Linked DNA regions of Homo sapiens: all the other regions are linked to region 2. Evidence: fine-mapped expression QTL. A gene starts in region 2. Each other region holds a variant in brackets. All regions are shown on one strand. Distances are between the middles of the regions.

What was found. PIP is the estimated chance that this variant, and not a neighbour inherited with it, causes the effect.
Region 1: its variant is the best candidate, but not a certain one, in a credible set for the expression of POU2AF3 in sun-exposed skin (GTEx, PIP 0.82).
Region 3: its variant is the best candidate, but not a certain one, in a credible set for the expression of POU2AF3 in esophagus mucosa (GTEx, PIP 0.68).

Annotation. Positions count from the first base shown.
Region 1 is chr11:111,367,161-111,371,347 of GRCh38, reverse strand. The region is part of intron 1 of POU2AF1 (POU class 2 homeobox associating factor 1); the gene reads left to right. Among named protein-coding and RNA genes, the nearest start is that of POU2AF1, 10 kb to the left of the region's middle. RefSeq lists an enhancer at 3,473-3,632. The variant G/A (reference allele first, on the strand shown) is at 2,140.
Region 2 is chr11:111,296,306-111,300,492 of GRCh38, reverse strand. It overlaps POU2AF3 (POU class 2 homeobox associating factor 3), which reads right to left and starts at 1,947. Exons shown (of 5, transcript NM_001271458.2): 1 at 1,905-1,947. The coding sequence starts at 1,911. COLCA1 (colorectal cancer associated 1) reads left to right here. Exons shown (of 2, transcript NR_169237.1): 2 at 1,827-4,187. RefSeq lists a silencer at 808-1,007.
Region 3 is chr11:111,389,223-111,393,409 of GRCh38, reverse strand. It overlaps a transcript of BTG4 not described here. Among named protein-coding and RNA genes, the nearest start is that of POU2AF1, 12 kb to the right of the region's middle. The variant T/C (reference allele first, on the strand shown) is at 2,140.

The DNA.
Region 1 (4,187 bases), 71 kb before region 2:
CGAAAACTGAAACAACAATGTGTGGCCTCCTTTTCTTAGTAACAGTTTCATTAGTACCACTTTCTGGGAAGAGCTGGTCACCAAAAGATTATAAACCAGAATCATTCTCAGACCAGGTGCTGGGACAAAAAAGGATTTGACCAGTCTTAAACTGAATTACTTTTTAATGCACTAGAAAGAGCCATACATTTCATTGGAAGACAGCAAGCATACAGGACATTGTTAAAACTTTCCAGGACTAGGAAACGCTGAGGTGACAGAAAGGAAAGAAAAGAAGAGAGGCAAGAGAGTTGACAATAGAAGCAAGTCTTAATGTTGGATGAAAGGTACACCAATTCAGGAAGGAAAGGTATAGAAGGAAAATCAACCATCTATTCATCATCCCATGCAGGTATGCATCCCTCTAAGCATCCATCCAATAATGGAATTATTTCCAGCTAGAGAAACCAACCAATGAAATAAATTATCTTCAGCAGAAGGTGGGGATGATGGAATCAGGGAAGGTGTCATGGAACATATAGCATTGGGTTTGGATCCTGAAGAATAGATGGTAATCAGACTTCTTGCTTAGATCCTGGGGTGTGCAGATGCATCTTAGGACATAAAATATTAGCACTGGGAAGAAAATCCAAGGATTTTAGGCTGATGTCTATAACATTTTTGCTACAAACTCCCTTATTCAAACCAAATCTACTGTAGAACTTCAGTATAAGAATAAAAATCGTGCGGTTTTGGGGGGCTATCTGGAGCTCTGATTGCTCATGTTCCCCCACATTTCCCTGCCATTCTCACTCTGTTGGCACCTGCAGGCACCATAACTATATTCCAGGGTTCTTCAGGTCACAGCTGGATCCCCCTGACCTGGCCAATCTACCCCTCTTTTTAGCAAGATCCCTGCTAGCTGGTCACAGAGAGTGGCAGTGAGTGGCTGTGAAACATATTGCATTGGTCTTCATCAAGCTCTGAAGCTGTGAAGACTATGTGTTCGGTCTTTGTGGGTCTCTTGTGAATAAAGAGGAGGTAAATTCCTAAAAAACTGACCAAGTGACTTCTTTCTCAGGCTTGATACTAACAACCACTCCCCTTCTCCAATGTCTTTCATAAAGGAATCCCTTGCATCATGAGGGCCATTGGTTAGCAAAGCTGAACATTATCCAGAAAGCTCCTCTTGACCAGCTGTGATGTTTCTCATGAATCCATTGTTAGGGCTACTCTCACTTGCGAAGGCTACACCCCAGGCCACCATGAGCCTTGGAACTTGGGCAGTTGGGTCTGACCCCAAATACAAAACTAATGCTGGGATCTGAAGAGTCCATTCTCCAAGAAAGTGGTCCTTACATGATGGTCTCAGGAAAAGTTAAGTTTTTTCAATAAAGCTCTTTAGTCTTGAAAAGCCAAAATTAGATATTGCTTGAATCAAGGAACAAAAAATCGGATATCCATCTGCCTCCTCCAGCTGCCTAACCACAGGTTATTCCCATCCTAGCTCAGATGGGCAATTCTAGATTCAAGCCTTGATCTAATAAGGAAAGAGACAGCCCTTTCCTCTGCTCCATCCCTCACTATGGTACTGCCTTGCTATAGAATTGGGGTGGCCACTGGGGTAGGTGGACTCTCCTCATTCACCTTCTGGTCTGGGACGGTAGGTCTGGAGCTCTGTTTAGGCCCTTTCTCTTTCCTGATGCCCCACTCTCAGCAAATTTGAGGCAATGCCAAATATGTAATCCAGGAATCTGCTTTGCTCTACAAGGTGATAAAACTCCCATCTATGGGCACTGAAGAGCCCTCCCTTGCCCATTGCCACATTTCTATTCCATATGCGATATGTGCTCCTAGGTTTCTAGCCCCCTTGAGGGAGTATCTACAACATAGCCTCAGCCATGGCTGTGTCCCTGGCCTTTAGGAGATACATATAGGTTCCTTAAGGGGCTGCATCTGAGGTCAGGACAAGGGAATGCCATCATACTCTGTCTGCAACCTAATCGCTGCCATTCAAAAATATCCAAGGTTTTTCATTTCTGAAGTCATACTTTAAAAACTCACATCTGCTGCAAACCTAATCCTCTGGTGACTTCTAAAGAAAGAAGTCTTCTGCTCAGCTCATCGTATCTTTATAAAAGGCCATTTCCAGGGTTTGGC[G/A]TCTCCTGTCTAGGATTGCTGTACGAAAGCGAAGTCTTTTACCAGCCCCTCTGCAGCATCATTGGCTTCCCTGTCTCCTAAGTAGGGGTATCTTGCTGCCTGGGGATTCCAGGTACCTGAGGGATTAATTCCAGGAGCATAATGAAGGCAGGTAGAGACAGGCCTGGCAGGCAACAGAAGGCCCTGGGTATGCTGAAGACAGAGACATTCAGTATCAGGATGTAGCTGAATGGAGGCAAGTTAGGGTCACTGTACCAAGGCTACTTCTCCGATGACAGATGGGCCATGGATTGTTGGCTGAGATCAAGGAGAAAGGGCTATTTGTTGGGAGCTCATTATGCACCAGGTGTTTCATTGTGTTAATCTCATACAGTTCTCATGATTACCCTTTGAGATGGATATTATTACTTTCATTTTGCAGATGGGGAAACTGAGGCACACAATGGTTAAGTGATTTGCCAAGAGTCACACAGGTGATAAGCAACATAACAGGCTTTCTAAACTAGGTCTAGTCCCAAACTGTACCACACTGCTTCTCAATGACAAGGATTTTAGTGTTGCACTGGGTCCTTCTTCCTCTCCCAGTTGAAGAGGGCCCTCGCTTAGATGGAGGCAGGTTATGACTTCATCAAGGGTAGCTCTAGCCTGGCACAAAAGCCTCTGCAGATTTGGATCTTAGCAAGTCACGCTCGAGACTCAGTATGGAAGCTCTGAAACCTACTGATTTCCATCTTAGAATCTGAGTTCCCTGGACTCCTCTTCTCTTGGTGGGCCAATCAGCCAAGATAGGATAGGACCAGCTAGTGACACACCCTTAGGATTCACTCAGGACCTGCCACTTAGAGTGTCTGGGACAAGGGTCTGCTCATGGTGAGGCCTGAGTCTCTGGCCCCAGACCAGCCCCTCTGCACTGGAGATCCAACAGTCATATCTCTTGCACTCACCTCTATACAGTCTCTACAGACTTGGGGCCCCAGTTTGCTGCTTGTTCAAGCCTTACTAAACCAGGTGTAGGTGGAAACCAACCAAACAAACCAGAACCACTTCAGTTCTGAGGCAGATGCAGCTCTGTCACAGTTTGTAATTCTAAATTTGTTTGTGCAATTATTTGATTAAAGTCTGTGTACCCCACTAGACTAGACTGTAAGCTCCAAGAGGGCAAGAACCTCATCTGTTCTGCTCAGCAAGTACTTGTTCAGTGAATGCTCTGCCAGGGGTCTCTTGGTCTTGTCCCCTACCCTGGGACACAGTGTATCTGCGAACCCTTTCTGCTCCGGTGACCCCAGTTTCTGTAAAAGGCAGGCAGATGCAGCTGCTTTCTCAGGTGGACCTGTCCGCTGTCATTTCAGTCGAAAAATACCAAAAATAAAACCTTGCGGGGAATTGTTTGGGTCTCTCAGTTCTCGTCACTCCTCATGTGAGAAGGCTGCTGACAAGGTTCTCGTGGACAGATCTCTCCTCTCTTGGCTGGGCAACACCATTTCTTGGGGAAATTGGCAATTGAGGGAGACTGGATCAGGGTAGTCCAAGCCCAGACTTTAACTGGAGCAAGGAGGGTTAGGATGGGGCCAGGAATCATTTGATGATTAACCTGCAGTGTCGCTCAGAGAAAAAAATGGGACTTGCTCGGGCAGAGACAAGGCAGGCAGTGAGGCAGAAGTGGAGTGTACTTGGAATCACAGGTCCTGGGCTTGGTTGAGGACACTGTTACTTACAAGTATAGTCGTTTGGCAAGTCACTGAATATCTCTGAGCATCAATTTCCTTCTCGGTAAAGGAAGGGAGCGGAAGAGGAATACGTTGTACTGAGCCTCTATCTGCAATCATTAGTGTCAAAATCTCTATGGAACATCATGCAAATAGGAGTGTGGTGATTTCAGAGCTCCCAAGAGTTAAGAATGTGACCAGGAAACACATGGACCTTTACCACCCATTCATTCAACAGACCTGAGTCCCTGGGAGCAGAGAATGGGTACAAACAGCCTTCTGTGCTTGACCTGATCTGCAGGAGGCTCAGAGGAAGGGAGGTGTGGTGTGGAAGGTGCGGAG
Region 2 (4,187 bases):
AAGGTCTGGGTGCCAGGGTGCAGAGTGGGGGCCCCTTTTATAGGCTATGGCACCCAAAGCCAAGTTTCTAAGTTCGGAGAACACACACAAAAAATGTCAAAGGATGGTAAAAACCCAAACATTTCAAACTTGAAAGAATGAAGAGTAGCTGAGCAGGTTTCAGAGCCCCAGTAGGAAAAGAATCCGTGGAAATTTGTGGGGCCATCCACCCCTGGCTGGGCCTCAGTCCTAGGCCAATAGCAAACGGGTTTTTCTGCTCTGGAATATGGAGACCAGTGCAGCGGAGCCCACCACTCTGATTAGGTCGGGGGAACCTTGGCTTTCAGACCCAGACAGCCGAGAGAGAGGGTATTATGGACCTGGGGAGGGGCCAGGCCTGGGGCAGGGGGCTTTCTCTGATTATGGCGGCTGACGTAGCCCACCCCACTGTGATGTTCCCACTAGCATGGAAGTCCCGAGTCCCTTCCTTCTCCGCCTGGCCAGGTGTGGCTTCTGGGCAGGCTCCGACCTCTGCGTGCCCTTGGTCTGGAAGCCAGCCCGGGAGCAAGCGGTGAGGTTTGGCCAGCCCCGTCCTGGGCCGGCGAGGTACCTGCCAGACTGACCTAGTAAAGGGGCCAGGCCCGAGGAACTCCCTCCCTCGCTCCCTTCTGTCTTTGCCTTCTGCCCGCTCTCCCTCGTCCCTTTTCTCCGCCTTTTCCGCGCTCCATCTTGCCCTCCTCCCTCCTTCGCCCCCGCTCCTACTCTCCCCTTCTTCCCCTCTCTCCCTACCCCCTCCCTTTCTGGGGCAGGCGTTTCTCCGAGGCGCACTGAGGCTCCGGGGCGAGTCCGCGCAGCGCGAGCTGGGGAAAGCCGTCCGGGGCTCCCGATGACCCTGCACTCCGCCGGGAGGCCGCCCTTCGGTAGGGGCCGCCCCGGGGCTGGCGGGGCCCGGTCGGACTGCCCCGGCTCGCGGGAGGTGGCGGGCGCGCTCAAGAGGGGTTCGCTGGGAGGGACCCCTGAGCGCTGGGAGCAGGGGCAGCCTCAGCCCCGGGCCCCGAAAAGCCGCAGTGAGTAGGTTGGGGACTGGCTGTTAGGCCAAGCCGAGCCGGGCGAGCTTTCAAGGTGGAGGTGGCCGCAGGAGTCCGGGGCGGCTCCGGCCCTGACCACTACCCTGCAGTGTGCGTCCAGGAATCGCGCCGGGAAGTGCGCTGGGTGCGGCGGCCGAGGGTGACCGCGCGTTCAGCCTGGACGCCTGGAGATAGTGCCAGGATGCCAGCGCCTCGCCTGGTCACTGCGGGGACCGCAGCTGGACAGCAGGGATCCCCCTCAAGCCGGGTTCCAGGAGTTAGGGTCTCCCCAGGAAAGGAGATTGCGCTCTTCCTAGCCCGGACCCAGGGAATCCCGTGCCCCGCCCGCAGGGCCCAGGCGCCGCGCCCTCTCCGCGCTCCAGCCTACCGCAGCCCCACCACCCCGTTCCCCGATCGGCTCCGGACTCCGCGGGCAGCGGGCGCCCCTCGGGGTCCGCGCAGGGACCGCCACAGCTCGGCTCAGTGCAGTCGGTGCGCTCTGCCCCCGTCCCAGGCTCACTGTGAGCCTCTAGCTCCCCCCGTAGCAGCTTCTGGGCGCGCAGGGTCCGCACCGCGTGTCTCAGGACACAACAGTGGATACGTGGGAGGGCGGGCGGGGGCCTGGGGTACGCGGACGTCCGGAGCGGCCAACTCGGCCTCTGGGCCTCTGCCCTCCGGGACAGGCGCTGAGTGGGAGCGGCCACAGCGTGGCTCGCGTCCTCTCCGGATCCCCGGCCCTTACTCGCATGCCTTGACTTTGTGCCTCTCTGTTCTATGCAGGAAAAGCCGTGGAAACACACCCGGATTGAAATGCCCCTGGCCCGCCTGACCCGACCCTAGGAGAAGCAGCCGAGTTACCCGACATCGTGGTCAGCAGGAGCTGGGTCGGTGGCTGGATGCTGCAGCAGCAGGGACTCAGCGCCTGGGAGGGCTCCTGGGGCAGGGAGAGAAGCAGAGATGCAACATTTTTAAAATTTCACAAAGCATCCGGCTGCACCCAGGTCCCTGGAACAGGAGACAAACAGAATTAATGTTTTATACCTTCGGGTATAGGTTTGAGTTTTTTCCCCCTCATGCCAAGTATTTAAAACCTCTAGAAACCCATGATTTGACAATCAATGATTGCGCGATACTTTCAATTTGAATATTCAAAGGCTTAACAAAATGGACTATCTTCTGCAGAAATCCTGCACACAGGCACCCCACAGAGAGTCCAGAGAAACAGGGAGTGAGACCCCTTTGGGTCCTGGCCCTTGCTTTTATTATAGTTTGAGCATTTTGTCCTCCTTCCCACAGATAGAGCAGATGTCCTCAAAGATGCTCTGTATTTCAGCCTTCAGGGCAGCTAAGAAGCCATGAGTGACTTAGGCTGCCCTGGCCATGAACACCGGAGCCAGACTGGCTGGCCAGACTGATTCCCGCATCCCCCATCTGTGTTTTGAGGGGAAATCTCAGGTTTTGAGGAATGAACATGGCAGCTAGTGGGTGTGGCACAGCAAGAAGTCGCTCTGGGCCCAGGTGGCAGGCCAGCGGCCTAGCAGAGGCCTTCGCTCTGCACCTCCTATTTTTCTGGCTCCGCCTGGCTACCAGCGGGCTTCCCTCCCCCTTTCATCCCGCTCTTCCTGGGCCCGACACTGGGGTTTCTGCTCAGAATGACTGCCCATTAAGACCCTTTCCTCCTCCCCACAGAGCTGGGGATGCCAGGAGCCTCATCCTCTGGAGACTTTCTGACTCTGGGTTTCACCACCGCACTGCGAAGTGCCCTCTTTGCTTTTTCGCCTTCTAGAGCCACCCCTGCCTTTTTGCTGTAGGAGCACATGTTAGGAAACAATGACAAGTTTGGCTCCTGCTCATTTTAACTGAAAGGATGTGGACTTAGGTTCAAGCCTTCTCCCATTGGGGTGAGAAGGGGGAGGGACTTGGGATCAGGCTTCCCCCTTGGTCCAGGCCCAAGCCCCTCACTAATGACTTGGGATTCTACTGGGTCATCTTCTGTGAGTACTTACTGTGCCTCTTCCATGTGATTTGGAAGGTGAGGAGACAGGAATGGTCCACAGAGGGAGAGAGTGCCAGGCCAAGTCCTCTCATAGCCACCCGCCCCCTCCACAGAAGGGGACAGCAAGAGAAGAGAGAGGCATGGTGAGGTTCCTTTTGCAAATAACCAAGATATTTCCAGGATTCAAGACCAGTCCATGGTTTTAGGCCTCTGCTGTTTATTCTCTGAGTTCTCAGAAATGCAAAAAGTGTAGTTTAGCCCCAGAGGCCTCAAGAAAAAGATTGGGGTGCCCCCAAATGTGTCAAATACAGAGGGAAACACACAGAGCTTAGGGAAAGGGCAACTGAGAATGACAAGACTGATAGGAATTGCTTGGCAGCTGAAGCCACATCTCTGGGGGAGAGGAGCAGGCCTGGGAACACCTGAGGTGGCACCTGGCAGTGGAGGGCAGGATGGATGTATTGAAATCTGACAGCTTCTGGAACTTCTTTCTACAAATGCCCCTGAGCCTGTGTCCTAGGTTTCCCTGATGGACCAGACCTGAGGAGGGGAAGGACAATGGGGGTGGAGATGGCACCTCCCCTCCCTGCATGCCTTCTTCCTCGCTGTGCCTAGGCCTTGCCCCCTCTGAAGGAACAGTGAACCAAGCAGCTTGGAATCTAGGGATGGTCTCTTGTCCTCATAGCGTCTTCCATTACTTCTTTTCTTCGCTGCTCTCCTCCTTTTTGTTATACTCTTATTTTTTGATTTGCTTTTAAAAACCTTCTTTGTTGCATTTTTGTTTATTTCTTTCTGTGTTTCTTTGTCTCTCTTCCTGTCATTGCTTTCTTCCATTTCTTATCTGTACTACTGGTTTTCTCCCTGGCTTCACGTGTCTCTGTGTTCCCCTATGCTGGGGTGTCCTCCCAGTGCTTTCAGGCTTCATCTCCTTCCTAACCTCTCCTTTCTATTTTTTTTTTTTTTTTTTTTGAGATGGAGTCTTGCTCAGTCGCCCAGGCTGGAGTGCTAACCTCTCCTTTCATGTGGAGATGGACAGGGATGGCAGGAGCACTGAGTGCTCTTGACAACACCATTGAAGATGATGCTGACGATCAGCTACCCTGTGGAGAAGGCAGGCCAGGCTGGGTGAGAGGGGAGCTCCTTGG
Region 3 (4,187 bases), 93 kb before region 2:
ATAGTCAGGTGCTGCTGCTGCTGCCTGAGGGTGTGGAGGGCTGCAAGGAACAGGTGTTTCAATGCTGCCCTTTGCTTTGGATGCTCTAATCTGTCCAAGCTGACATCACAGCCTCTGAGAGGTGAGTGCATATGACCGTCTAGATTAGATAAAGTGACTCATCGTAATTTACAAACTGTGATTTAGTAATCCGGTTCCTTGACTCAGAGTAATAAGAGATCCATGATAACAGTGGATTTGGAGGAAACTTGGGGGAGATCCAGATAGCATCAGCCCACAGTGCTATCCCTCCTAGCAATCTTTGCACTCATTGTTGATGTGTATTGTATGTTCATGAATCTAGGTGACGATATGGTATAATCTGTCATCACTCTGTGGCATATTCTCACTCCTCTCTGTAGTTCAGGCAGTACCATAAGACTCCCCTCAGGGCCCAGGCTCAAGCCTATCCGTGATTGCAAGAATGGCTATCCCTTTTGGGTGCTTACTATTTGCCAGGCACTGTTGTACTGTTTTACACACATCCAATAATCTAACCCTCACAAGAATTCTATAATGTACATACCCAGAGGAGACAAGGTTGGTGGCGGCAGGATCAAACCCAGGCACTTGACTCGCAGGTCTGGGCTCTTAGCTAGCAAACTATGTTACCACTGTGCAGGCTGGAATGTCTATTCTCCCAAAAACTCAGAGCCAAGCAGTGAGGGATGAAGGAGCCAGGTGAGGCCCTGCTTTCTGAGCAAGATAGCTAGGTGTTATAGAAGAGAACTAGATAAGGCTGTGGTTCTCACATGTGATCCCTGGACCGGCAGCCTCAGCATCACCTCGGAATTTGTTAGAAATGCAAGTCCTCTGGCCCTGTCCTGGACCTACCAAATCAGAAACCCTGGGAATGGTGATTTGGATGCATGACAAAGTTTGAAAATCACTAGAGGCCAGCCACGGTGGCTCATGCCTGTAATCCTAGCATTTTGGGAGGCCGAGGCGGGCTGATCACAAGGTCAGGAGATCAAGACCATCCTGGCTAATACGGTGAAACCCCATCTCTACTAAGAATGCAAAAAATTAGCTGGGCATGGTGGTGGGTGCCTGTAGTCCCAGCTACTTGGGAGGCTGAGGCAGGAGAATGGCATGAACCCGGGAGGCAGAGCTTGCAGTGAGCCGAGATCGTGCCGCTGCACTCTAGCCTGGGTGACAGAGCAAGACTCCGTCTCAAAAAAAAAAAAAAAAAAAAAAAAAAGAAAATCACAGGAAAAGGGAAGCTGGAGGCTAGGTTCTAGGTCTATCTTTGCCCTTGCCTAGCTAGGTAACCATAGGCAGGTAATTTCATCTCTCTGGTCCTATTTCCTCATTTTAAAAATGAAGGGCTCACTCTAGATTTATTCACTTTTCATTAATCCAGCAAACATTTATTGAGTGCTTACTGTGTGACTGATTCCGAGAATGCAGAGACACGAAGCTTTCAGAATGGAACGCAATGAGAGCCAGGTGGCTTGGGATCATCTGTGGTTACCACTCCAGTTTCAACCGTAGTTAATTCTTGCTGAAACAATTGTTAGAAAGACTCTCTCTAACCTCCCACCCTTTCTCCTAACTCTAATTTATCTTCACACTGTTGCCAAAGCCACTTTTAAAAGAAGCGTGACTATGACCCCGTCACTCCTCAGTGAAAAACCTTCCATGGCTCCCTATTGCCCATACTTTCCCAAAGGAACACAAATGGAACACAATTGGAAACACATTTCCAAGGATCACAAGCAGCTTGGAACACAGTTCCAAGGACCAGAGAGATGGAACACAATTCCAAGCTGCTTGTGATCCTTGGAAATGTGAGAGGCCTCAGGCATAACTCCGCCTGTGCCGCCCAGGCCTGTAGGATGGCGAGGAGGAAGAAGTCCCGGCCAGCAGAGGTTCTAGGTTCTGCGTAACCTGAGTCCAGTGGCTAAAAAAAGAAAAGACTAGGATTCTCATGTAACATTTGGCAAAACTCTACACTTCCTTGAGCCTCACGTGACATTTCTCCTAGATAAACCTGGCTAAATTCCTGCCTGTATTTCAAAACCTACAAAAAATTTGGAGCGACAGAAAATGGGTGTGTTGGCTCAAGACTCAAGACTCTGAACAGTATGAGTTTGGAGT[T/C]TGTCGCAGCAACTGGGGCCATTGTCTTCAAAAACCAGCATCCTGAATAGGGTCCCTGGGGCTTGATGACTGCCGTTAACATAGTTGGGCTGGAGAACTTGCTCTCCAACTTCAGATGCAGCCACTGATGTCTATATGGTTGTCTACCCCTGAAAAAGAGTAAAGGAACTGTTATCAATTAATCAATGAGACTTTATCGAGCACATACTCTATTACTGTTTTTATGCCAAATTTGCTGGTTACGAAAGAAACCTAAGGTGCTTCCTTGCACCAGAAGTCTGCCAAATTTTCTGCAATCCAGGGCTTGGCATCATTTAATAAATTGGGCCATCCAAACTCCATCGGAGGTGGGTCTGAGTCAGCTTAGCAATCTGCCTGGAACTTTGCTTTGGAGTCTGTGCATCTGCCTGTGAAGTCTGCCTCAACTGGTGCAAAATGGTTGCCTTGTTTTGGGAAGATAAATGGTCTGAGTTGCATCATGAGATGTTCAAGTGGGACTGGAAGGCTTCGAAGAAAGAGGGAGAGTCAAGATGCTCAGAGTCCTGTTGGACTCTTAAAAAACCTTCTGTCTCTGTCGCAGAGTGGAAAGCCCACCAGAGCCTTAGTGCCCACTTCCTGTGGTGTGACTGAGCTTAGGGCTCCCTGAGCTCAGTTCTTACTTTGTTATTGTGAGGGCATTGGCTGGTGTTCAACTGATATTTCTTGAATTTGTTGCATGTAGAATATCTAGGTTGGATGCCATTGATAGTTTTTATCTTTATCCCTTAGCTGGGTTTTTAGAAATGCTTTTCTGAATGTGCCCAAGATGTTGATTTTGAAAGATACTTTATGACCCACTGCTTTCTTTGTTCTGATGGGAAGATATTTGTTCTGGCTGCCTCTCCTCTACCTCTCCCCACTTCCACTGGAATGTAAGCTCTAAGAAGTCAGGAGACTTACTTTCCTTGTTCACTGTTCCATCCTTAATGCCAAATACAGACTGGATGACAGTGGGATGACATTCAGCAAATATTTGCTGAATGAATGAGTGCATGAATGAATGAATGGATGGATGGATGAATGATCAGCTGTTTGGGACTTAACTTTCTTGTGTGTGTGCATGTTGTGGGGAATAATGTGATGTGGTGATTATAAGCTATGGAGTCAGATTGCCCAGATTATAATCCTGGCTCTTCTACTTATAAACTGTGCATTTTAGCCAAGTTTCTTAACCTCACTGTGTTTCCTCATATGTAAAATGAGGCTAATACTTCAAAGCATTGTTATGCAGATTAAATGAACTAATATGTGTAAAGTATTTAGAACAGTTCCTCGCTATATGATCAGTGCTCCAGAAGTCTTAGCTTTCGTTGGCTTTGTGAGCTGGAAGGCACACATGGAACTCCTGGAGTTGTTTTATCTCCTTCTGCCTCCCTCCACTTTTGTTTTTTTATGGTGTGATTGTGTCTAGTTGTGGGACACATTAATTAAGAGAGTTTTTTTAAAAGAAAAACGTACTCATGCCGATCAGTTTATATTTATTGTGCACCTGTTACATTTATTATACCTTTTTCTAAAAGAAAATTAGTATTTTCTCCCACAGATAGTGATAGCAACACTGGGTTCAAGTCAAAATCTGTCACATTCATTATTAATGAAAAAGTAGTAATAACAGAACTAGCTACCATTTATAGAGTCTTTTCTATATTCTGGGCATTGTGCACTTTGGTGGACCACGGATCATGGATACCCAGGTATTGACTGAATGTCAGACTTTGTCTCTGGGTTCACTGAGGCCAGGCTTAGCTTACTTTGTTCATTAGTCTCACTCTAGTGTTACTATGGCCAACAAATGCCTCAGGTAGAGTTAATCCTTAATTGAATTGACTGCTCTATCTTTGGAAGCAGATTTCTTTTTTTCTTTTGGACCTTCAAGGTGTCTAAAATTTTGAGTTGTCGTTATCTCTTTCTCACTCTTTCCTCTTTTTTCTTCCTACACTGACATTTCTATTTATATCTCGTTTTCATTTTCTCTGTCTCTTCATTCATTCATTTATTCAAGTTACTTT